Linked DNA regions of Homo sapiens: regions 1 and 2 are each linked to region 3. Evidence: fine-mapped expression QTL. A gene starts in region 3. Each other region holds a variant in brackets. All regions are shown on one strand. Distances are from middle to middle. Region 1 holds the start of IFIT1B (interferon induced protein with tetratricopeptide repeats 1B). Region 2 has its middle 11 kb from the start of IFIT3. Region 3 holds the start of IFIT5 (interferon induced protein with tetratricopeptide repeats 5).

Evidence for each region.
Region 1: its variant is fine-mapped to the expression of IFIT5 in atrial appendage (GTEx, PIP above 0.99). The same link has a PIP of 0.9 or more in stomach.
Region 2: its variant is fine-mapped to the expression of IFIT5 in whole blood (TOPMed, PIP above 0.99).

What each region holds. Positions count from the first base shown.
Region 1 is chr10:89,377,894-89,385,905 of GRCh38, reverse strand. It overlaps IFIT1B (interferon induced protein with tetratricopeptide repeats 1B), which reads right to left and starts at 7,850. Exons shown (of 2, transcript NM_001010987.2): 1 at 7,766-7,850; 2 at 701-2,587. The coding sequence starts at 7,770. The coding sequence ends at 1,168. It also overlaps a transcript of LIPA not described here. The variant T/C (reference allele first, on the strand shown) is at 3,077.
Region 2 is chr10:89,313,408-89,321,419 of GRCh38, reverse strand. It overlaps a transcript of LIPA not described here. Among named protein-coding and RNA genes, the nearest start is that of IFIT3, 11 kb to the left of the region's middle. The variant A/G (reference allele first, on the strand shown) is at 3,005.
Region 3 is chr10:89,411,007-89,419,018 of GRCh38, reverse strand. It overlaps IFIT5 (interferon induced protein with tetratricopeptide repeats 5), which reads right to left and starts at 4,451. Exons shown (of 2, transcript NM_012420.3): 1 at 4,216-4,451; 2 at 1-1,814. The coding sequence starts at 4,220. The coding sequence ends at 371. It also overlaps a transcript of LIPA not described here. RefSeq lists enhancers at 3,405-3,474, 3,575-3,674, 4,285-4,594.

The sequences.
Region 1 (8,012 bases), 33 kb after region 3:
TATCACTAATAAAATACACTCCAAGAATTTGTGATCTTAGCAAAGCTCTTAGGTGTAATCTTAGATGTGTGATTTTAGGTGTGATCTCAGGTGTGAATAAATGTCCAGCAGTGTGTTTGGGTCACGTAGATCCCTTGTGATTGCCAGCAGCTGGACACATGTAAACAAAAATTTGAATTTATTATAAGGCTTGGCTCACTGACCAGCAGGTCCCAGCTACAGTAGGGCCTTGGGAAATAGAACTCCAGCTAGAATGCTGTAGAACTCCTGAAATTCCCTCCTTTCTAACTCTTGTCTTTGCTCATTTATTTTACTCTTAGGTTTTGTTGCAGGTCAGTGACCCTGGCCACATGGAACAGAAACCTTCCCTGTTTAGGTCTCCTTTGTTTGGGAGACTGAGGATGAAAACTGCTCATTCCAAAGGCAAAATTTTAAGGAAAATGATTCTTATTGTCCCAGCAGATGTAGGTGCCTAAAACAGCATTAATAAGCCTTGGTCAATGAATGCAGGGATGTGTTGTGGAAGAATAGATGCTCCTGCCGCAGACACATGGATTGAAGAGGAAAAAATGAGGGGGGTGGCCAGGCAATAGAGTATGTGTTATACCGAAGTATTTTGTATTTCATCAGACTATACATTTTTGAAGGCAGCAATTGGGAAAGACTGTTGTCTCAATCTCAAATAATGGAATTCAGAAACTATGATTAAGTATAGAGTTTATTTGAGCACAAAGCTTGAGGGTAACCACTCAGGAAATACAGACACCTAATGACTGGAGTCAGCATTCCAAAATGGGGAAGTTAAGATTTCACTTACATAGGCAGTAAACAGGGTTGCAGCATTTTCCACATAAGGTCAGTACACACGTTATAGCAATTTGATCGGTTACTACTTGCTATGTTCCAAGAAAGATTGCTTTACCATTCCATCAGGAGGGATGATACTTTCAGGGGGTCTTATGTCTGGTGCCACAAGGCCTTTCCTGATCATTTACAGGAAAAAGCAGAAGTTGCAGTTGCATGCTACATAACTCAGGCCACACAGCCACATTCCTCTCAAGGCTCAAAATAAGGTAAATTTCCAACAGCTTTAAGTTTGCATTATTTAATTTCATAGTCATTCTATTTAGTTATAAGACCATTAAATGGATAATGGTGACCTCTATGTTAAAATATAGGGTTCAGGTCAGCAGCCAGCCTCAGAGCCCTCTCATAGCACAGCAAAGCATCACTTACTTCTCCTTTCAATTTGTGGATAAGCCCAAGGAGGCTGACACTTTCCACAACCCGTACATTCTGGTGAATACATCTTTTAGCCAATTTCTCTAAAGCATTGAGAAGTTTTTCCCTGGAATGGGACATTTTTTCTATTTTCAAACCTTTTAAATAATGGGTAATTGCTTTATCTTGAGATTTCCCATGATGTTCTTGGAAACGGCCGTAGTGGTAATGAATCTCTTGCTTTAGCTGATCTTCAAAGATCTTCATGCGTAACCCTTTCTGAAAATGTTCCTCAGCCTTTCTGTGGTGGCCTATTTCTGCATACGTTTCAGCCAGGTCAACATAGGCCATCTCAAATGTTCGCTTTAACATTATAGTCTTTTCAAATTTGCATATAGCCAATTGAACCAATCTGTCCACAGTTTCCCTATCTTGCCCTCTAGGCTGCCAGTTTGTAGCTTCCTTGATTTGGATCATTTGTGCCCTGTAGCAAAGCCCCATTTGGTGATGCAGGAAGGCAGAAGTGGGTGTTGTCTCCAAGGCCATTTTTAAGAGCTCAAGAGCTTTATCCACAGACCCTTTTCTTCGATAAAACTTGGCTGCATATTGAAAGACATAGGCCTGTGAAGATATACTGGTCAGAGCTTCTTCAATGTACTTTTCTCCTTCAGCTTCCTGTCCTTCATCCTGAAGCTTCAGGGCAAGGAGAACCCTAATATATACATCATCTGGATTTAGCCTGACAGCTCGTTTTAGGACGTGCAGAGAAAATGCCTTATTCCTCCCTGATGCTGTGTTAAATTTATCCAGGCGATAGACGGTGATTGCGTACCCAGTATTGAATTCAGGGTTTTCAGGGTTCCCTTCCAGAGCCTTTTCAAAGCAGGTCTTGGCCCGTTCATAATTCTTTCCACCACACTTCGCCAAGGCCCATCCTTCCTCACAGTCCACCTCTGGACACTCCATTCTATAGCGGGAAGGATTTGCAAACTTCTTGCAAGTGTTCTCCACCTTGTCCAGGTAAGTCTGGGCTTCTGCCAATCTGCCCATGTGGTAATACACCCAGGCAAAGTTGCCCCAGGTCACCAGACTTCTAATATCTGCTTGGTTGGCATGTTCTTTCTGAATTAAGTCTTCAGCCTTTTTCAAGCTGACCAGGGCTTCCTCATTCTGGCCTTTCAGGTGTTTCACATAGGCTAGTAGGTTGTGTATTCCCACATTGTATTTGGTGTCCAGGAACTGAATCTCTTCCCAGATCCTGTTTTCTAAATCAGGAATTTCAGGGGCTTCAATTAACAACTTCCATGTAAAGTGACATCTCAGCTGAATCAGGCTGTCTTCAATAAGCTTTCCATCAGATTCTTCACTGTAAAAATAGGCAGCAATTAATTACATTTTGAGAAAGTATTCAGTCCACTGAAAATGAAGCCAGCACTTCAAATAGTCAAATATGCTCTATCCTAATTTCCCTGCCTCCATTATCTGGTGCCCCTCTGGGTTCTACAGTCATGTCATTAGGAAAGAGAACAGGTTGACATAAAAACCAAGGGGAAATGCTAATCATCTTGTAGTGCCAACAGATAGGTTACATGAAGTCTAAAAGTCAATTCAAAAGAGGTTAATTCTGCTAACATCAAAATAATCTCAGCACCACCCTCAACACTGCAAAACCTGTCTTCTTTCTGCTTCCTCCTGACTTTGCAGTCCATGACTAATGCAGTCAGAAGAAATGTGGAGAGAGGGTTCACAGAAAGGTGGGTTCCTTACTCATCTTTTTCATGTTCTCAACACGTAAACACATTTTGGTTTTCTCTCCTCCCATGAAGGGTTCTGAGTAAAATATGAGAGCCAAATA[T/C]GGTTTCAAATGCAGGACTTCATGAATGCTCAAGCCAGGTTGGAGAATGTGGTAGGGTTTCTAACTCCTTTGCCTGTGTGCACTTACTCAACCAATCCTAAATGGAGGGGTTCCAAGTGGGTGGAACCACCTCACAAGGGCAGCCTTACTGATGGGGACAGAAGAAGAGGCATGAATGAACATTACATAGGTAAGATGTGTCTCTTTGAAGAAGTGGCAAGTCCCACTTTTGTAAGTCAGTGCTCCTGACATCAAGTAACCCTGAAGCCTAGTGGAGGACAGGCTATAAAATCTCAACAATTGTAGTAATCTCTCAGCCACTCATGAGGAAGAGAGAATAATATGAAGTCAGTGGGACCAGAAGGGTTTTTTTCCCCAATAGTTCACGCTCCTCTGAAGTGGAACTGAAGTCCTAGTCTCCCTATAAGAACATGAAGGAAGAAAAAGAAATTTGTCCTTAATAGTTGAAAAAGTGGTCCTCACATCCTATGTAAGTATATTTACCTCTGTGTTCTAAACTAATTACTTTACAGTCTATACTTGACATGTTTTCTATCCGTTAGGCCCAAGGAATGATTTCAGAGAGGACCATTATGAAATTTTCTCTTACTCTCTATATGGCAATGTATAGCAAAAACAATTTTTATATAAATCCTGACTCAATATAACCATAATATAATATAATATAACCATAATCTAATCACAAAAAATGGATGATGAAACATTCTTTTTTGAAAATAAAGGGAAAGAAAAAGTTCACGGCCAGGTGTGGTGGCTCACACCTGTAATCCTAGCATTTTGGGAGGCCGAGGTAGGCAGATTGCCTGAGCTCAGGAGTTCAAAACTAGCCTGGGCAACATGGTGAAACCCCATCTCTACTAAAAATACAAAAAATTAGCCAGCGTTGTCCCAGCTACTCTGGAGGCTGAGGCACAAGAATCACTTGAGTCTGGAAAGTGGAGGTTGCCATGAACCGAGATCATGCCACTGCACTCCAGGCTGGGCAACAGAGCCAGACTCTGTCTCAAAAAAATTAATAATAAAGAAAATAAAGGAAAGGAAAGAAAGGAAGAAAGGAAAGGATTCACAAGATAATGAATAGCACCACAAAGTTGGGCAGAGGATACTCAGGCTTATGACTGCTGCTTTGAGCACAGCTGGCAGCTCAACACAGCCCTCACTTTTCCCTCAGAGTCTCCATCTAAAAAACTCCCTACTATGCTTAGACCCTCCTTGAGTGCATTCCTGCCCACAATCCCAAGCCATCTTCTCCATCCTTGAGTCTGTGGAATATGAGAGTCCTGGCATATTGCTTTAGGATAGGACTGTATAGTTGACTGCTGAGATGAGGAGTCCCAGAAATCTTCCTTCCAGCTGTGGCCCAGGAAGATTACCCAATGAAACCTGTGTGTGGGGGTGTGTGTGGGACATATGCTGGGTGAGGTGGGGTCAGGAGTAAGTAAAATTAATATTGTGCTGAAGAATGCTCACTGAAAATAGTCACCACCCCTACAGAAGATGGAATCGGGAAGAGTTTTTGACCCAAATCGTCCACTCATGCCCCGTGGAGCTTGTGCTATGATGAGAACAGACACTACCCAGGGAAAATAATCCACACAGACTTCCATTACTCTAGAGCTGCTGGAATATTTGAAGATAAGCCATTCCAAGCTTTCTAAATATGTACCCAATCTCAGCATCTCAGCTGCTAGCCCACCCAGCACATTTGTGAGCAGTAGAAAGAGATCAGTCTTCCTCTGAGTGATCTAATCATGGCCATGCATTGATAGGTGGAAAAAAGTATACTAGATTTTGGCTTTCACTGAGATTGTAGAATTTCAAGTGCACAATTTACACAATCTTACAAGGCTGCCCTGCCAAGTTCCAGAAGAGAATTATTGCTCTTTCTTATAGGTGGTTGTTCATCAACATGTATCTTCTTGACTTGGGCCCTGGGAAGACTAAGGAGTAGAATATCACCCTAGAGGTGTCCTCACTCTCTAAAATGGAAATGCTGAGAGCCTAAAGTCCTCCTTTTATCTGGTGAGCATACAGAAAGTGCTGTTATTAGTAGTATACATATTATCATCAAATTAGGCCCCAGCGTGGTGGCTAATGCCTGTAATCCCAACACTTTGAGAGTCCAAGGCAGGTGAATTGCTTGAGCCCAGGAGTTCACGACCAGCATGGGCAACATAGCGAAACCATGTCTCTCAAAAAATACAAAAATTAGCCGGGCCTGGCGATGCACACCAGTAGTCCCAGCGACTTGGGCTGACGTGGGAGGATCACCTGAGCCCGGGCAGGTGGAGGCTGCAGTGAGCTGTGATCATGCCACTGCACTCCAGACTGGGTGACAGAGGGAGGCCCTGTCTGGAAAAAAAAAAAAAAAAAGATGAGTTTGTGCATGTATGTAGTGACCTAATCCCTGTATGCCTGTGGCAGACAGGGACTCGTCACCATGTTTTGTGAGGCATTTCCCTGGATCTTGTCCACTTAAGCTCCACTTAAGCTGTCTTGATCAATAAGCATGAATGGAAGGAGGAGCTCAATCTGCTCCTCTGTCCCTGAACCAGTGGGATCAGGAGGATTTTGATGTGGGCATTATTCAGTCTGGGATAGTCCAGATTCCCCTTAGGCCACCTCAGGTCAGTGGCTTCTAGAAACATACGCCCAGGCCATTGCAAAACCTCTCACATAGACTAGCTACCAAGGCAGCAGGGAATGAAAGGCTTGCTTTCTGTCAACTCCACAGATGCAGACACAACTAATACCTTTTGTTTTTTTTTTTTTTTGAGACGGAGTCTCACTCTGTTGCCCAGGCTGGAGTGCAGTGGTGCAATCTCGGCTCACTTCAAGCTCCGCCTCCCAGGTTCACGCCATTCTCCTGCCTCAGCCTCCTGAGTAGCTGGGACTACAGGCGCCCGCCACCACTCCCGGCTAATTTTTTGTATTTTTTAGAAGAGGCGGGGTTTCACCTTGTTAGTCAGGATGGTCTTGATCTCCTGACCTCGTGATCTGCCCATCTCGGCCTCCCAAAGTGCTGGGATTACAGGTGTGAGCCACCATGCCCAGCCACAACTAACATCTTATGACCAGGAGCCCGTTATATTAAAAAGAGAGACTTGGGTACTCTTGTGGTGAATTTTTTTGCAATCCTTCATTTATAATTTCTTCTCAAGACAGGTCTACATGTTTGCTAGAAAGGGATCTCAAAAGAGCAGCCCCTTTTTCTGTAAAGTTCTTCCTCTCCCACTGACTGCAACATCAGATGGGAGAACTCTAGCAGGTCAGAATACTTTTGAGTGAAAGCATTTTCTGCAGGTCACCAGTTCTAACTACACCAGGAAAAAAAGAAATATATATTTTGTGGAACAAACATATCACAATGCCTACAAAATTTCTTATTTTCTAACATCTAGTATAATGGTTTTTCAAATTTTAGCAGGCAACATGATCACCTGGAAAACTTATAACACACAGATTGATGGGCCCCACCCTAGAGTTTCTGAGTCAGCAGGTTTAGGGTAGGGCCTGAGAATTTGCATTTCTGCTACCTTCCCAAGTGATGCTGATGTTGCTAGTCAGGGGACCACACTTTGAGAACAGTTAATTCAGTGAAAAGCAAATTTCATAGTAATCACAATTTCATAGTTTCACAGTAATCACAAAATTTGACTTGGTATCAAAAACAAACAAACAACAGAAAAACAGCCATCTCTGAAAGTAGCTTCTTTTTCCCACGTGAATTTAACCAATTTATCAAATAAAAATAGCTGCTTCTTCTCACCTGGATGCCTAAAAGAGTATTTTGTATATTAAAAGGATCTCAATGCTCTTGCCCTGACTGGTCCCCGGGCCAGTCTCCTCTCTAGGCTCAGGCCTCTGTTCCCTGGTGAACAGTCTTTAAGTGTTGCCTGGGTAATTGTCCCTCTATTAGAAAGTGCTACAGAAATGACATCTTTGGAAATAAGATTGCTTTCTCGTTTATTTCCTTAAGAGCATTGCTGCTTTTATTAAGCCAGCTACCCTTACTAAGCGAGCTCTGTAACAGGAGTTAGGAAACTTGCCTCTACATATATTCTCATCTTGCCCCTCTGAATCTACTTTCCTACATTCTTCACCATGCTCTGTGCTTGGAAGCTGACTCTATGGACTTTATTAACTCCAAAACTCTTTTATTTTTTACTTTCTACTGGGGTTGGCCCACTGGGGAGCACCAGCCAGATATTAAATTGCAGGAGGAGGTGAAGGTCATGGAATTAATTCCTAAGCTCCCACTGTGCTCTGCTTGAGGTTGTCAGTGATTTTTTCACCAAAGGCCTCTTGAGAAGCCCCTCCCCTACAGCTATAGCTTAGAGTCTCCTTGGGTCTGGTTCTCTCCTCTTGCTCCTGTAGGCCCAGGGTTATCATGTTACCACTGTTGTAAACCAACACGCCTCTTCCCGCTGCCCTGCAACCAACAAGCACCATTTCCTGTTGATTTCCCTAAACTTTGCCCATATCGTCTTAAATAGCCCCCTTATTAAACTCTTCTTGGTTATCATGTTGAGGGTGCCTATCAGGGTCAGAACCACCAGTGGGACAGCTCCCTTAGGAGAAGGCCTGTCAAAAAATTGGCCCTTAAGGAAAGTTTTAGAATTTCAAAGTGTGCAGAAATAAGGTCAGTGAAGCAGAGAAAGACTTTACCTCATGGTGCTATGAAGATAGCAGGTGATCTGTAGTGCTTTGGTTCAGGCTTGGAGGCTCCTTCAAGGTTCATCCACAGAGTTCTAGGGCTTCTCAGATAAGCATGGTGCTTATATATGGGAGGTATATCCAGGCAGTTTTTTACACCCTTGATGCCTAGTGAATTGGCAGGGTGAAAATGATACAGAGGAATAGGGCTGTCTCTGCTTTGATTACAAATACATGCTGAGTTTTGGCAGCTAAGAGG
Region 2 (8,012 bases), 98 kb after region 3:
CATTCATAGCCTTTGCCCACTTTTTGATGGGGTTGTTTGATTTTTTTCTTGTAAATTTGTTTAAGTTTTTTGTAGATTCTGGATATTAGTCCTTTGTCAGATGGGTAGATTGTAAAAATTTTCTCCCACTCTGTAGGTTGCCTGTCCACTCTGATGGTAGTTTCTTTTGCTGTGCAGAAGCTCTTTAGTTTAATTAGATCCCATTTGTCAATTTTGGCTTTTGTTGCCATTGCTTTTGGTGTTTTAGACATGAAGTCCTTGCCCATGCCTATGTCCTGAATGGTATTGCCTAGGTTTTCTTCTAGGGTTTTTATGGTTTTAGGTCTAACATTTAAATCTTTAATCCATCTTGAATTAATTTTTGTATAAGGTGTAAGGAAGGGATCCAGTTTCAGCTTTCTACATATGGCTAGCCAGTTTTCCCAGCACCATTTATTAAATAGGGAATCCTTTCCCCATTGCTTGTTTTTGTCAGGTTTGTCAAAGATCAGATGGTTGTAGATGTGTGGTATTATTTCTGAGGGCTCTGTTCTGTTCCATTGGTCTATATCTCTGTTTTGGTACCAGTACCATGCTGTTTTGGTTACTGTAGCCTTGTAGTATAGTTTGAAGTCAGGTAGTGTGATGGCTCCAGCTTTGTTCTTTTGGCTTAGGATTGTCTTGGCAATGCAGGCTCTATTTTGGTTCCATATGAACTTTAAAGTAGTTTTTTCCAATTCTGTGAAGAAAGTCATTGGTAGTTTGATGGGGATGGCATGAATCTATAAATTACCTTGGGCAGTATGGCCATTTTCACGATATTGATTCTTCTTATCCATGAGCATGGAATGTTCTTCCATTTGTTTGTGTCCTCTTTTATTTCATTGAGCAGTGGTTTGTAGTTCTGCTTGAAGAGGTCCTTCACATCCCTTGTAAGTTGGATTCCTGGGTATTTTATTCTCTTTGAAGCAATTGTGAATGGGAGTTCACTCATGATTTGGCTCTCTGTTTGTCTGTTATTGGTGTATAGGAATGCTTGTGATTTTTGCACATTGATTTTGGATCCTGAGACTTTGCTGAAGTTGCTTATCAGCTTAAGGAGCTTTTGGGCTGAGACTATGGGGTTTTCTAAATATACAATCATGTCATCTGCACACAGGGACAATTTGACTTCCTCTTTTCCTAATTGAATACCCTTTATTTCTTTCTCCTGCCTGATTGCCCTGGCCAGAACTTCCAACACTGTTTTGAATAGGAGTGTTGAGAGAGGGCATCCCTGTCTTGTGCCAGTTTTCAAAGGGAATACTTCCAGTTTTTGCCCATTCAGTATGATATTGGCTGTGGGTTTGTCATAAATAGCTCTTATTATTTTGAGATATGTCCCATCAATACCTAGTTTATTGAGAGTTTTTAGCATGAAGGGCTACTGAATTTTGTTAAAGGCCTTTTCTGCATCTATTGAGATAATCATGTGGTTTTTGTCTTTGGTTCTGTTTTTATGCTGGATTACATTTATTAATTTGCATATGTTGAACCAGCCTTGCATCCCAGTGATGAAGCTAACTTGATCATGGTGGATAAGCTTTTTGATGTGCTGCTGGATTCAGTTTGCCAGTATTTTATTGAGGATATTTGCATTGCATCGATGTTCATCAGGGGTATTGGCCTGATATTCTCTTTTTTTGTTGTGTTTCTGCCAGGCTTTGGTATCAGGATGATGCTGGCCACATCAAATGAGTTAGGGAGGATTCCCTCTTTTTCTATTGATTGGAATAGTTTCAGAAGGAATGGTACCAGCTCGTCTTTGTACCTCTGGTAGAATTCAGTTGTGAATCCATCTGGTCATGGACTTTTTTTGGTTGGTAGGCTATTAATTATTGCCTCAATTTCAGACCCTGTTATTGGTCTATTCAGGAATTCAACTTCTTCCTGGTTTAGTCTTGGGAGGGTGTATGTGTCCATGAATTTATCCATTTCTTCTAGATTTTCTAGTTTATTTGCATAGAGGTGTTTATAGTATTCTCTGATGATAGTTTGTATTTCTGTGTGATTGGTGGTGATATCCCCTTTATCATTTTTAATTGCATCTATTTGATTCTTCTCTCTTTTCTTCTTTATTAGTCTTGCTAGTGGTCTATCAATAATGTTGATCCTTTCAAAAAATCAGTTCCTGGATTCATTGATTTTTTTGAAGGGTTTTTTGTCTCTATCTCCTTCAGTTCTGCTCTGATCTTAGTTATTTCTTGCCTTCTGCTAGCTTTTGAATGTGTTTGCTCTTGCTTCTCTAGTTCTTTTAATTGTAATATTAGGTGTCAATTTTAGATCTTTCCTGCTTTCTCTTGTGGGCATTTAGTGCTATAAATTTCCCTCTATACACTGCTTTAAATATGTCCCAGAGATTCTGGTGTGTTGTGTCTTTGTTCTCATTGGTTTCAAAGAACATCTTTATTTCTGCCTTCATTTTCTTATGTACCCAGTAGTCATTCAGGAGCACGTTGTTCAGTTTCCATGTAGTTGAGCAGTTTTGAGTGAGTTTCTTAATCCTGAGTTCTAGTTTGATTGCACTGTGGTCTGAGAGACAGTTTGTTATAATTTCTGTTCTTTTACATTTGCTGAGGAGTGCTTTACTTCCAACTATGTGGTCAGTTTTGGAATAAGTGCAATGTGGTGCTGAGAAGAATGTATATTCTGTTGATTTGGGGTGGAGAGTTCTGTAGATGTCTATTAGGTCTGCTTGGTGCAGAGCTGAGTTCAACTCCTGGATATCCTTGTTAACTTTCTGTCTCGTTGATCTGTCTAATGTTGACAGTGGGGTGTTAAAGTCTCCTGTTATTATTGTTTGGGAGTCTACATCTTTTTGTAGGTCTCTAAGGACTTGCTTTATGAACCTGGGTGCTCCTGTGTTGGGTGCATATATATTTAGGATAGTTAGCTCTTCTTGTTGAATTGATCCCTTTACCATTATGTAATGGCCTTCTTTGTCTCTTTTGATCTTTGTTGGTTAAAGTCTGTTTTATCAGAGACT[A/G]GGATTGCAACCCTGCTTTTTTTATTTTCCATTTGCTTGGTAGATCTTCCTCTATCCCTTTATTTTTAGCCTATGTGTGTCTCTGCCATGAGATGGCTCTCCTGAATACAGCACACTGATGGTTCTTGACTCTTTAGCCAATTTGCCAGTCTGTGTCTTTTAATTGGGGTATTTAGCCCATTTACATTTAAGGTTAATATTGTTATGTGTGAATATGATCCTGTCCTTATCATGTTAGCTGGTTATTTTGCTCGTTAGCTGATGCCGTTTCTTCCTAGCACCGATGGTCTTTACACTTTGACATGTTTTGCAGTGGCTGGTACCGGTTGTTCCTTTCCATGTTTAGTGCTTCCTTCAGGAGCTCTTGTAAGGCAGGCCTGGTGGTGACAAAATCTCTCAGCCTTTGCTTGTCTGTAAAGGATTTTATTTCTCCTTCACTTATGAAGCTTAGTTTGGCTGGATATGAAATTCTGGGTTGAAAATTCTTCTCTTTAAGAATGTTGAATATTGGCCCCCACTCTCTTCTGGCTTGTAGAGTTTCTGCCGAGACATCTGCTGTTAGTCTGATGGGCTTCCCTTTGTGGGTAACCTGACCCTTCTCTCTGGCTGCCTTTAACATTTTTTCCTTCATTTCAACTTTGGTGAATCTGCTAATTATGTGTCTTGGAATTGCTCTTCTCGAGGAATATCTTTGTGGCGTTCTCCGTATTTCCTGAATTTGAATGTTAGCCTCCCTTGCTAGGTTGGGGAAGTTCTCCTGCATAATATCCTGCAGAGTGTTTTCCAACTTGGTTCCATTCTCCGTGTCACTTTCAGGTACACCAGTCAGATGTATGTTTGGTCTTTTCACATAGTCCCATATTTCTTGGAGGCTTTGTTCATTTCTTTTTACTCTTTTTTCTCTAAACTTCTCTTCTCACTTCATTTCATTCATTTGATCTTCAATCACTAATACCCTTTCTTCCAGTTGATGAATTGGCTACTGAAGGTTGTGCATGCGTCATATAGTTCTCATGCCATGGTTTTCAGCTCCATCACATCATTTAAGGTCTTCTCTACGCTCTTTATTCTAGTTAGCCATTCGTCGAATCTTTTTTCAAGGTTATTAGCTTCTTTGCCATGGGTTCAAACATCCTCCCTTAGCTCGAAGAAATTTGTTATTACCGATTGTCTGCAGCCTTCTTCTCTCAACTCATCAAAGTCATTCTCCGTCCAGCTTTGTTCCATTGCTGGCAAGCAGCTGCATTCCTTTGGAGGAGAAGAGGCACTCTGATTTTTTAGAATTTTCAGCTTTTCTGCTCTGGTTTCTCCCCATCTTTGTGGTTTTATCTACCTTTGGTCTTTGATGATGGTGACATACAGATGGGGTTTTGGTGTGGATGTCCTTTCTGTTTTTTAGTTTTCCTTCTAACAGTCAGGACCCTCAGCTGCAGGTCTGTTGGAGTTTGCTGGAAGTCCACTCCAGACCCTGTTTGCCTGGGTATCACCAGTGGAGGCTGCAGAAAGGCAAATGTTGCTGCCTGATCCTTTCTCTGGAAGCTTCATCGCAGAGGTGCACTCTGCCGTATGAGGTGTCAGTCAGCCCCTACTGGGAGGTGCCTTCCAGTTAGGCTACTCAGGGAGGAGTAACAGACTAACTCCCACTTGAGGAGGCAGTCTGTCCATTCTCAGATCTCAAACTCCGTGCTGGGAGAACCACTACTCTCTTCAAAGCTGTCAGACAAGGGTGTTTAAGTCTACAGAAGTTTCTGCTGCCTTTTGTTCAGCTATACCCTGCCCCAGAGGTGGAGTCTATAGAGGCAGGCAGGCCTCCTTGAGCTGTGGTGGGCTCCACCCAGTTTGAGCTTCCTAGCCACTTTGTTTACCTACTCAAGCCTCAGCAATGGTGGGCGCCCCTCCCCCAGCCTCACTGCTGCCTTGCAGTTCCATCTCAGACTGCTGTGCCAGCAGTGAGCAAGGCTCCCTGGGCATGGGACCCTCTGAGCCAGGAGCAGGATATAATCTCCTGGTGTTCTGTTTGCTAAGACCGTTGGAAAAGCGCAGTATTAGGGTGGGAGTGTCTCAATATTCCAAGTACCATCTGTCATGGCTTCCCTTGGCTAGGAAAGGGAATTCCCTGACTCCTTGCACTTCCCGGGTGAGGCGATGCCCCGCCCTGCTTTGGCCCACACTGTGTGGGCTGCACCCACTATCTGACAAGCCCCAGTGAGATGAACCCAGTACCTCAGTTGGAAATGCAGAAACTACCATCTTCTGCATCACTCATGCTGGGAGCTATAGACTGGAGCTGTTCCTATTTGGCCATCTTGGAACCTCCTCTGAAACTGCATTTTTAATAATGTCTCTAGGAGATTCTGATGTAGGGGTTTCTGGGAGCCGGTTATATGAAAGACTTCCAAAATGTTTTGTAAAAAAAATAGTAGTTTTAGTATACATATGTAACTAACCTGCACAATGTGCACATGTACCCTAAAACTTAAAGTATAATAAAAAAAAATAGTAGTTTTGTCCAGTAAATTGTCCCCCAGAAGTAAATTTAGACCTAGAGACCTAGATTTAATTATCTCTGTTTACTTTACTAGTTCTCGAATTTTCCAGGGGCCATATCATTGAGCCAGAATTTCCTTTTTGCCTCACACTAAACATACGAAGCCAGGCCCTGGAGGGATCTGTGAGCTGTTTAGCTTTCCAAGCTCTGGATAATAATTTAGTTTACCCAGCTGTAAAATGGGCAAAAGTAATACACATATTATTGTTTAATGGATGGATTATATATTTATGCTTTGAGCTCTGAAGGAGTTGATACTACCCTGAGAGGTTTTTTTTTTCTTTTCATTTTTATAATACTTCCCAACCATGATGTAAATATTCATAAAAACCTAGGGAGTATAGTTGTCATGACTAATTTGATAATGAAGGAATTGTTAGCTAGAAGCGTTTCCTCCATCCTGTAGCTGCACAAAGCAGAGACTCTTGTGTAGCAAAATTAACATGACATATGGTGTTTCCAACAACAGAGTCTCATGAGATACTTCGAGTTCAGAGGTTGTTATAGTCTAAGAAAGAAACCTGCAACTTGGAAAAGTCTAATTCTGATTGGTTGTTTAACTTAACAATTTGTTATCTTGGTGATAATAAAGTGACATATCTTTATAAAAGGTACATATATTTGTGATATCATAAATGGTATAAATACCATCCTTATACCCAGTTAGAAGGTGCCTTTGGCCCCGTGCTTTAGAGGGTCCCATATATCACAGATACAAACATGTAAAATTTTGAAAGAACAAATAGCACCTCTGTTACTCAGAATCCAGTGCTTAATTCTGGTAGAATTGGACTTGAAACCCTAAACATCCAGCCCAGGGAAAAGTTGCCTATCTTCCCTTCTTTGCTCACAATGAATGGAGATTATATCATGCATGTTTGTGCATTGTGAGGGAGCTGATTTTTAGAGACAGATTCTGCTTTGGAGTTCAGAGAGGATTGTAGCAATAAAGATCAGAGAAAAGGCAAATTCAGCAAACTGCTCAAAGACTGTCTTTCACCAGAATGCAATAGATTCTTATGTAATGAATAATTATTTTTCCAGTACAGTAGGACCTATTGTCCATTTTCTTGCTTTTCTTTTTGTTCTAATTCCTGGCTCAAAAAGTACTCATGAATTAGCAGTATTTGCAACAGTTGCACATGGTGACTGAATAACATTCTGCATCATTAAGAAATTCATACTATTCTTTTTTTTCTTTTTGACAGAGTCTCGCTCTGTAGCCAGGCTGGAGTGCAGTGGCACAATCTCGGCTCACTGCAACCTTCACCTCCTGGGTTCAAGAAATTCACCTGCCTCAGCCTCCCGAATAGTTGGGACTGCAGGTACCCACCACCATACCCACCTAATTTTTGTATTTTTAGTGGAGATGGGGTTTCACCATGTTGGCCAGGATGGTCTCGATCTCTAAACCTCGTGATCCACCCGCCTTGGCCTCCCAAAGTGTTGGGATTAGAGGCGTAAGCCACTGCGCTCGGGCATAAATTCACATTATTCTTAAACTTGTACACATGCAGATTTGAACTTACATATGGAGTCAAATTCTCTTCTGTATTTGGACTCTTTCTTTGTGCCAATTTGCCAATCAGTAAGGTTCCTGCGTATGAGTATTTAAATATAAAATCAGATGGGACCAGATTTTCATAGCACACCCAACTCAGAAAATAGAATACATAACTTATCTAACATATCTACCGAATGTGAAAGCAATGACAGTATTCAAAATGCTACTAATAAGGATACAACACAATGAAAACAAACTTAGAAGTAAAAATAGATAACAAAAGAAAAATTTTCTTTATTATATTTGGAATAAGAGTGCCCATTTTTAACAGCTATAATAAAATATAATTCACATATCATATAATCCACTCATTTAAAGTATACAATTCAATAGCTTTCATTATATTCACAGTTATGCAACCAGCACCACAATCAATTATAGAACATTCTCAAGCTGTCATCTCCCATCGTCACAACCCCCTCCCCTAGCCTTAGGCAACTGCTAATCTATTTTCTGTGTCTATAAATTTGCCTCCGTTCCACATTTCATATAAACAGAATCATACAATATGTGACTTTTTAAATTGCCTTTTGTCACTTTGCATGTTTTCAAGGTTCATCTGTGTTGTATCATGTATCAGTAAGTACTTCACTTATTTTTGTTTCCAAATAATATTCCATTATGTGGCTCTACCATATTTAATTTATCAATTCATCAGTTGATGGGTCCACTTTTTGGCCATCATGAATAATACAGCTATGAACATTCATGCACAAGTTTTGTGTGAACCTATGTTTTCATGTTTTCCTTTTTCTTACATATGTATCTAGGAATGGAATTGCTGGGTCATATGGTAACTATGTTTAACCATTTGAAGAACTGTCCAACTATTTTCCAAAGTGGCTGCACCATTTTACATTAAACATACTTATTTTTGAGGTAATACAGATTTTCTT
Region 3 (8,012 bases):
GAAGAGTATTCCTGATCTAGGTATCAAAGGTTTACGTAGGAATATATTTACTATATAATATGAGAAATTCAAAGAGCAGAGATAAAAAGCACAGATCTAATGGCCATACCATTTTTAGAAGTTACAATAGCTAGAATATTGCTATTTCTCAATGGATTATAGTATTTTAATTAAAAAGAAAAAAAGAAAGAAAACCGCACAAGATTCATCATAATGCATATAAAGTATTTAGCACAATGCTTGGTACACAATAACTATTCAATAAATATTAGCTCTATAATAAACAAGGGATTAAAATAATAAAAAAAAAACAAACAGGAGAACCCAAAATGAAGGGAAAAACTTAGAGCTAATTTCCTAGAGTATGTATTTAAATGGAAAGTCGGAGCTCACAGAGAGCAGTCAGGAATTCTGCATTTTCTGGATCTATCTTTTGTGCCTTCTCATAGTACTCAGCAGCTTGCCTCTTTTCTCCTTCCAGCTTGTAAACAAACCCTAGGGCACTTAAACTCTGCACATCTAAAGCATTGTGACAAAGTCTCTTGGTAGACAATTTCTTCAGAGCACTTGTCAGTTTGGTGCGAAGGGGTGATCTGTCTTTGACCTTTAAGGCTTCTAAATAATGATGGATGGCAGTATTTTCTGATTTACGGTGAAATTCCTGAAAGCGGCCATAGTGGTAATGGATCTGATGTTTGTGATCATCGGTTATGTTCTCCAGACGAAGAGCTTTCCGGAAAATGTCCTCAGCATTGCTATACTGGCCTCCTTCAGCGTACATGTTGGCCAGGTCTGTGTAGGCAAATGCAAACATAGAGTCTCGTTCCATGGCTGCTTTGAAATGAAATATAGCAGATGAAATCAGCTCATCAACCTTTAGTTTATCCTTTCCTTTAGGTCTGTTGTGTGTGGCCTTCTTGATTTGGATCATTTGTGCCCTGTAGCAAAGTCCCATCTGGTGATGCAGGAAAGAAGAAGTTGGTGTCACCTCCAAGGCCTTTTTTAAAAGTTCGAGAGCTTTGTTCCAGGAATTTTTTCTCCTATAGAACTTGGCTGCATAACGAAGGACGTAAGGCTGGGATGATATTTGGTCCAGGATTTCTTCAATATACTTTTCCCCTTCAGCTTCTGCATGTACATCTTGAAGCTTCAGTGCCAGAAAAACCTTAATATAGCTGTTATCTGGGTTCAGGGTAACAGCCTTTCTCAAAGGCCCCAGAGAAAAGCTCTTTACAGACCCTTCTCTATCAGAATCATCCAGCCGATACACTGTGATAGCATAGCCGATGTTAAATTCTGGATTGTCAGGCTCCACTTCCAGAGCCTTCTCAAAAGCCGCTTTAGCCTTTTGATAATACTTTCCTCCAAATTTCAAGAGTGCCCAGCCTTTCTCACAGTCAGTCTCAGGACACTCCAACTTGTAGTTAGAAGGACTGGACAATTTCTTACAGACATTCCCTATCTTACCTGTATACTTCTGAGCTTCTTCAAGCTGGTCCATGTGATAATACACCCAGGCATAGTTTCCCCAAGTGACCAGGCTTCGTACTTCTTCTTTGTCTGAGTGTTCTTGCTGGATTATTTCTTCTGCTTGTTCCAAGCACTCAAGGGCGTCTTTATTTTGGCCTTTTAGGTGTTTCACATAGGCCAATAGGTTATAAAGAGCAAGTCTAGATTTTGTGGTAAGAAATTCAAGCTGTTGCCCAATTGTATCTTCTACCTCAAACAGATCAATGTCTTCCTTAAGTAAATTCCATGTAAAATGACATTCTAACTCCAACAGAATGGCCTTCAAGGTGTCCTTACGAATTTCACTGTCAAAGATAAAATACTTTTTAATTTTTGAAGAAATACAAGAAATAATTTTCTAAACCTTAAATATTGTTCTTTGCATAACAACTAATTTTATCCCTATTTGATCTTACAGTTAAAACATAAGTTTCCCATAACTTTATACTAGAGTTTCTTCTATATACAGTTATGTCCTAGAAATATTTCATTTAAATTCTCACTATTTATTGCAAAAACAGTTCTGGAGAGATGACAGAGCTTTCTGTATTACATGTATCTATTTCCTTTTGGCAATCACTAAACCATTGAAAATTAGGAATGAATATATACATATTCAATAATTAATATGAAAATTCCATTTTTGTATTATGAGTACTGATCCTGACTAGGAAACCTGGTAAAATTGCTCCTTGGTAATTGTTCCTTTCTCTAGTGTAATTGTACCAAAAATATGGGCAAGACATGCCATGTCCTTACAGCCTGCTTAAATCCACAACAACATGGCTTTACCAGCCCCCTGCCTAAAACAAACACCTGTTTTGAAGGTCTCTACCAGCCCAGCCCAAGGAGGATGAGGAGGGCTGCTCAGGTATTATGGATTTGGTTGTAAGATCTCAAAGGGACATTCAATCAGGTACTGACGTGGTTTGTCCAGGCTCTGGAATTTATGCACAACTGGACACCATGAGAATTTTTATTGTTTAAACTTTGTCTACTTAATTTTGTAACTTTGTCTTTGGGAAGCTAATAAGAGAGAAGCTATTGCATCAGAAGAGGTAACACGTATCTTTCGGTAATTCTGTTCTTCTGCTAGGAAGAAGCAGACTTTCATTGTCCTTGGGAGACAGTCCCCAATGGGGCTGAGCCCTTTTCCTCCCCATCCTGCATATATACGGTGCACGCCACCGTCTTTTTCTGTTTTTTGTTGTTGTTGTTGTTTTGTTGTTGTTGTTGTTGTCAAGCCCCTTCCTGATAGCACTCTCCTTTCTTACAAATGTTAGATGTGGCCAGGCGTTGTGGCTCACGCCTGTAATCCCAGCACTTTGGGAGGCTGAGGCGGGTGGACCACGAGGTCAGGAATTCGAGACCAGCCCGGTCAACATGGTGAAACCCGCGTCTCTACTAAAGATACAAAAAATTAGCCAGGCGTGGTGGCACACGCCTGTAATCCCAGCTACACGGGAAGCTGAGGCAGGGGAATGGCTTGAACCCGGGAGGCGGAGGTTGCAGTGAGCCGAGATGGAGCCATTACACTACAGCCTGGGTGACAGGGCGAGACTCCGTCTCAAAAATAAAGTTAGATGTGTGGGTGGCACTTAAACTTTTTTTTTAAACTTATAATGGGAATAATTAACATTTATTGTGCAAGTATTATGTGCTAAGCAGTCAACTGATAGGATTTATTACTGTCCTTTTCCACAGTCCCAAGAGATGGACACCATTAATTTTTACAAATAAGGAACAGACTCACAGAGTTTGAGAAACTTTGGGATCACTCAACTAGTAGGAGTTCAGTCCGGATTTAGAACAAGGGACTATCTGCTTTTAGAGCCCAAGACCTTAACATCTCATTCCTCAACTCATTAAATGCGGAAGGTTCACTAACCACGTGCAGGGCGGGGTGCTAGCCCCTGGGGATACAAAATGATCAAGAAAAGGACGCCATCATACTAAATCAGTAAAGGAAACAGATAAAGAAATCCTCATAAAACAGCGGATTGGGTGGGACGATAACAATCTGTGCTTGGTACAGAGGTAGCTCCTGGGAAGGGAAGAACTCAGACCCAGAAATCAGAAACGCAAACTGGCAGTGGCAGGCGAACCTGACGCCTGCAGGGCTGCGGCGAAACCGCGTATGCCACACCGAGGGAATGGCAGCTGGAAAGAGAGGCACGCGACAGGCCTAAGGAGACCCGTGGCACGTAGCAGCTGCCCCCGGAACAGCGCCTGGGGGCTCTGCAGGCGCTGACCAGTTTCCCGGAGGCGGCGGCCGCGGACCCAGCACGGTCACCGTCGCCGCTGCCGAGAAGAGCCGTCGGGTCGCGATGGGTGGACAGGCCTTCCGGGGGAGCGTCGCCCGGCACATACCCTGACAGTCCCGACCGCAGACGCCAGGGATGGGACAGGCTCCCGGGGAGCATCTCCTGTTCCTCCTCCCTGACCGGCCTTCTTAGGCGCTGGGGAGGGGCCGGACTCCCGAGAAGCGTCCACTCGGCCACCCTCCCCGGCAGGCCCGACTTCAGACGCCGCGCGCCGGGACAGAGCGCCCGGGGAGGGTCCCCAACGCAGATGCCCGGTTGCTGGGCGCGAGGGGCTCGGCCCCTGAAAAGGCCGCAGAACTGCGCTGGAAATGAATAAAAGCAGCCCGGTTTGAAACCAAGGCCGACGCAGGGCTTGGGAGGAGAGGCAAAGGAAAACCCTTACCTCATGATGGCAGCGCTCTGCAGGCCGTCCGGGCGGCGCAGTCCCTCGGATCGCTCTCTCCTCAGCACCGGGGACCGCGGGAAGCCGCGCGGTGGGCGTGCGCGTGCGCGTGCGCGCGCCAGGCCTCTGCAGCCCCTGGACTCGGCCGCGCGGCGTGTCTTTGTTAAAGGAGAGACCCCAGCCCCAGCAAGAACAGGAAACTGGAGATTGAATCAGATGCCGAGCGCTCAGAAACTGAAACTTAAGAAATCGAAACTAAACGTAAGCTTCAGAAACCGAAACTTAATAGAAGAGCTCAAGAGCCGCGGCCAGACGTTTGCGGAGTCCAGGGTCTTTCGGAGTTGAATTTGCAGCTGGGCTCCTTCACTTTGGTCTCGGCTTTTATCTGCCTCCCTGAGTACGCTGAGTTCGCATGCTGCCCGTGTAACTGTTTGTTTGTTTGTTTGTTTGTTTGAGATAGCGTCTCACTGTGTCACCCAGTCGTGATCTCAAGGGATGCGCCCGCCTCTGCCTCCCAAGGTGCTGGGATTACAGGCGGAAACTTAAGTCCCTGCTTCCACTCCAGTCTTTTGATTCAACAAGCAACACTGCAATGCTATACATCTATGCTGTTATTTCTGTTGGGTGTAAACTGAGAAATTTGGAGCTAAAATCTATATACATTTTAAGTTTTGACGGATATTGCCAAATAGCTTTAAAAATCCACTCTTACCCACAATTGTAGGAGACTGCTTCTCTTCCATACCTTCGCCAATGGTGCTTTGTAATAAGGACCCAATAAAGACAAGAGTGGTATTGGGGATCTAGGCAGAAAATGTCAAACACCCATACCTTAAACATTTTGTCCCCTTTGAATTCATTCAGCAAATATTGACAAACAACTGTAAGAGCCAGACTTTGTTCAAAGTACTGTCAATATAACAATAAAGAAAACAGACACGGGCCTTACCCTTATTGAGTTAATGTCTGTATTCAAAACCTCAATATCCTGTCCATAATTCATCTTTTGCATTGATTTTGGTTTTTTTTTTTTTTTTGAGACAGGGTCTCACTCTGTCACTCAGGTTGGAGTGCAGTGGTGAGATGACAGCTCACTGCAGCCTCAACCTTCATGGCTCAAGCGATCCTCCCACCTCAGCCTCCTGAGTGGCTGGGACTATATGCGTGCACCACTATGTCGGGCTAATTAATTTATTTTTTGTAGAGGCGGGGTTTTGCCATGTTGCCCAGGCTGGTCTCCAACACCTGGGCACAAATATTTTTCTAAACCTTAAATATTGTTCCGCCCATCGTGGCCTCCCAAAATGCTGGGATTACAGGCATGAGCCACTATGCTTGGCCTGATTTTGAATTTTTAAAAACATATTGCATTGAAATATTGTCTACCTTGATCACTGAGCTTCTGGCACCCCACCCCTCAAAACTTAGTGCCTGAAGCGAGTGCCTCATTTAAAGCAATCACTTCTAACAGTTGTACTGTCTTATACAGAAACTGCTGGTCACCTGTGGCTATTAAGAACCTGATTTTTAATTTAATATAAATTTAAAAACTGATAAGTTAATAGAAAACTTACATTTGGAATAACTTAGGTATACGAATCTGCTTTTTATAAGTTGCAAATTTTATGAACTCTAAATACAGAGCAAGTATTTCCAGTGATTATCCTCAGCAAACTAATGCAGGAACAGAAACCAAACACTGCATGTTCTCACTTGTAAGTGGGAGCTAAATGATGAGAACACACGGACACAGTGGGGAACAACACACACTGGGGCTTGTTGGAGTTGGGGGTGGTGGGAGGGAGAGCATCAAGAAGTATAGCTAAGTGATGCTGAGCTTAATACGTAGGTGATGGTGTGTCCGGAATTGGTTCCTTCCAGTAGGTTTTTGGTCTTGGTGACTTCAAGAATGAAGCTGCGGACTCTCGCTGTGAGTGCTACAGTTGTTAAAGATGGCGTGTCTGGAGTTTGTTCCTTTCGATGTTCAGATGTGTCTGGAGTTTCTTCCTTCTGGTGAGTTCGTGGTCTTGCTGACTTCAGGAGTGCAGCTGCAGACCTTCACAGTGAGTGTTACAGATCTTAAAGGTGGCGCGTCCGGAGTTGTTCGTTCCTCCCGGTGGGTTCGTGGTTTCACTGACTTCAGGAGTAAAGCCGTAGACCTTTGTGGTGAGTGTTACAGCTCATAAAGGCAGTGTGGACCCAAAGAGTGAGCAGCAGCAAGATTCGTTGCGAAGAGCGAAAGAACAAAACTTCCACGACGTGGAAGCAGACCCGAGCAGGTTGCCGCTGCTGGCTGGGGTGGCCTGCTTTTATTCCCTTATTTGGCTCCACCCATATCCTGCTGATTGGTCCATTTTACAGAGAGCTGATTGGTCCACTTTACAAAGTGCTGATTGGTCCATTTTACAGAGTGCTGATTGGTCCATTTTACAGAGTGCTGATTGGTCCATTTTGACAGAGTGCTGATTGGTGCGTTTACAAACTTTTAGCTACACACAGAGTGCTGATTGGTGCGTTTACAATCCTTTAGCTAGACAGAAAAGTTCTCTGAGTCCCCACCTGACCCAGAAGCCCAGCCAGCTTCACCTCTCAATCCCCCCTCTAAACAGGACACCCCAATTGCTGATGGGAATTTGGCTGATGACTGCTCTAGCTACTTTCTGCTGGATAGGGGCGAAGAAGGGGCCCTGTAGGTGTAGTGTCCTCCAGAGGGGAACTCTTTAGGCCAGTGGAAGGGCCAGCAGGTCAGTCCAGGGGTCCTCGGTAGAAGTTGTTAGTTGAACTCATTTGGGGTTCCATTTGTAAGACCATCTGTAGCTTGAGGGCCTCAATTCTAGAGGAAACAAATTTGACAAGAAGGTTAAAAACACAGGGCCCAAAGACAAGTAACAGCAAGATGGCTGCCACAGGACCTAGAAAGGGGAGAAGCCATGTTGCCCAACTCCAGAGGTTGGTATAAGAGTTTGAAAGGTGTTGTCTGATTTCAGAAGCCTTTTCCTGTAAACACCGGGTGGCATCTCGTGCTATCCCTGACTGGTTAGTGTAAAAACAACACTCTTCCCCTAAGAAGCTGCACAGTCCTCCTTTCTCAGCAGTGAGGAGGTCTAGGCCTTGGCGATTTTGGAGAGTCGCTGCTGCCAAAGAGTCTGTTTGGGATTGTAGAGTAAGGATAGATTTCATTATTTCATGCAAACTGTCTGAGAAATCCTTTGAGAGTGTATGGTAGTAGGATAATGCATGTTACACTGTTAACTTTTAGCAAACTTTACGTTAGTTGAAAACCTTGTAAGTTTGGGATTTCAATTATTCTTTGCTATTAGTAAGACCTCGTTCAGTCCATATTAACTTAGAATTGGTATAGATGGCTCCTTCCTGATTCTGTAAGTATTTTAAGGTTTGGCTGAGTGCAAACAGCTGACACATTTGAGCAGACCAATTATTAGGCAATTTTCCTAACACTGCTTCTACAAGAGTTTCCTTATTATTTACTGAATACCCATTGTGTTTTTTTTTTCCTTAATTGCCCAGGAGGAACCATCTATCCGTCCTGTCCTGAAGGGAGTTCCTCCTAGATCTGGTCAGACCTTTGTATGGGAATTAATTAAGATTTAGATCCCCTGTTAGGAAACCTGCTGGGTAAGGATTTTTGATAGGAAGGCTACTGGTTGTCAGTGGCCTCAGTGCTTTCAGGCTACGCCCTTGTTTACACTGACAGCAAGGTGGTATTGGAGTGTTATAGGGTTTCTGAGAAGACCTTCAGTTATCAATTATAGGTTTTAAATTTACCCTGGCTTTTA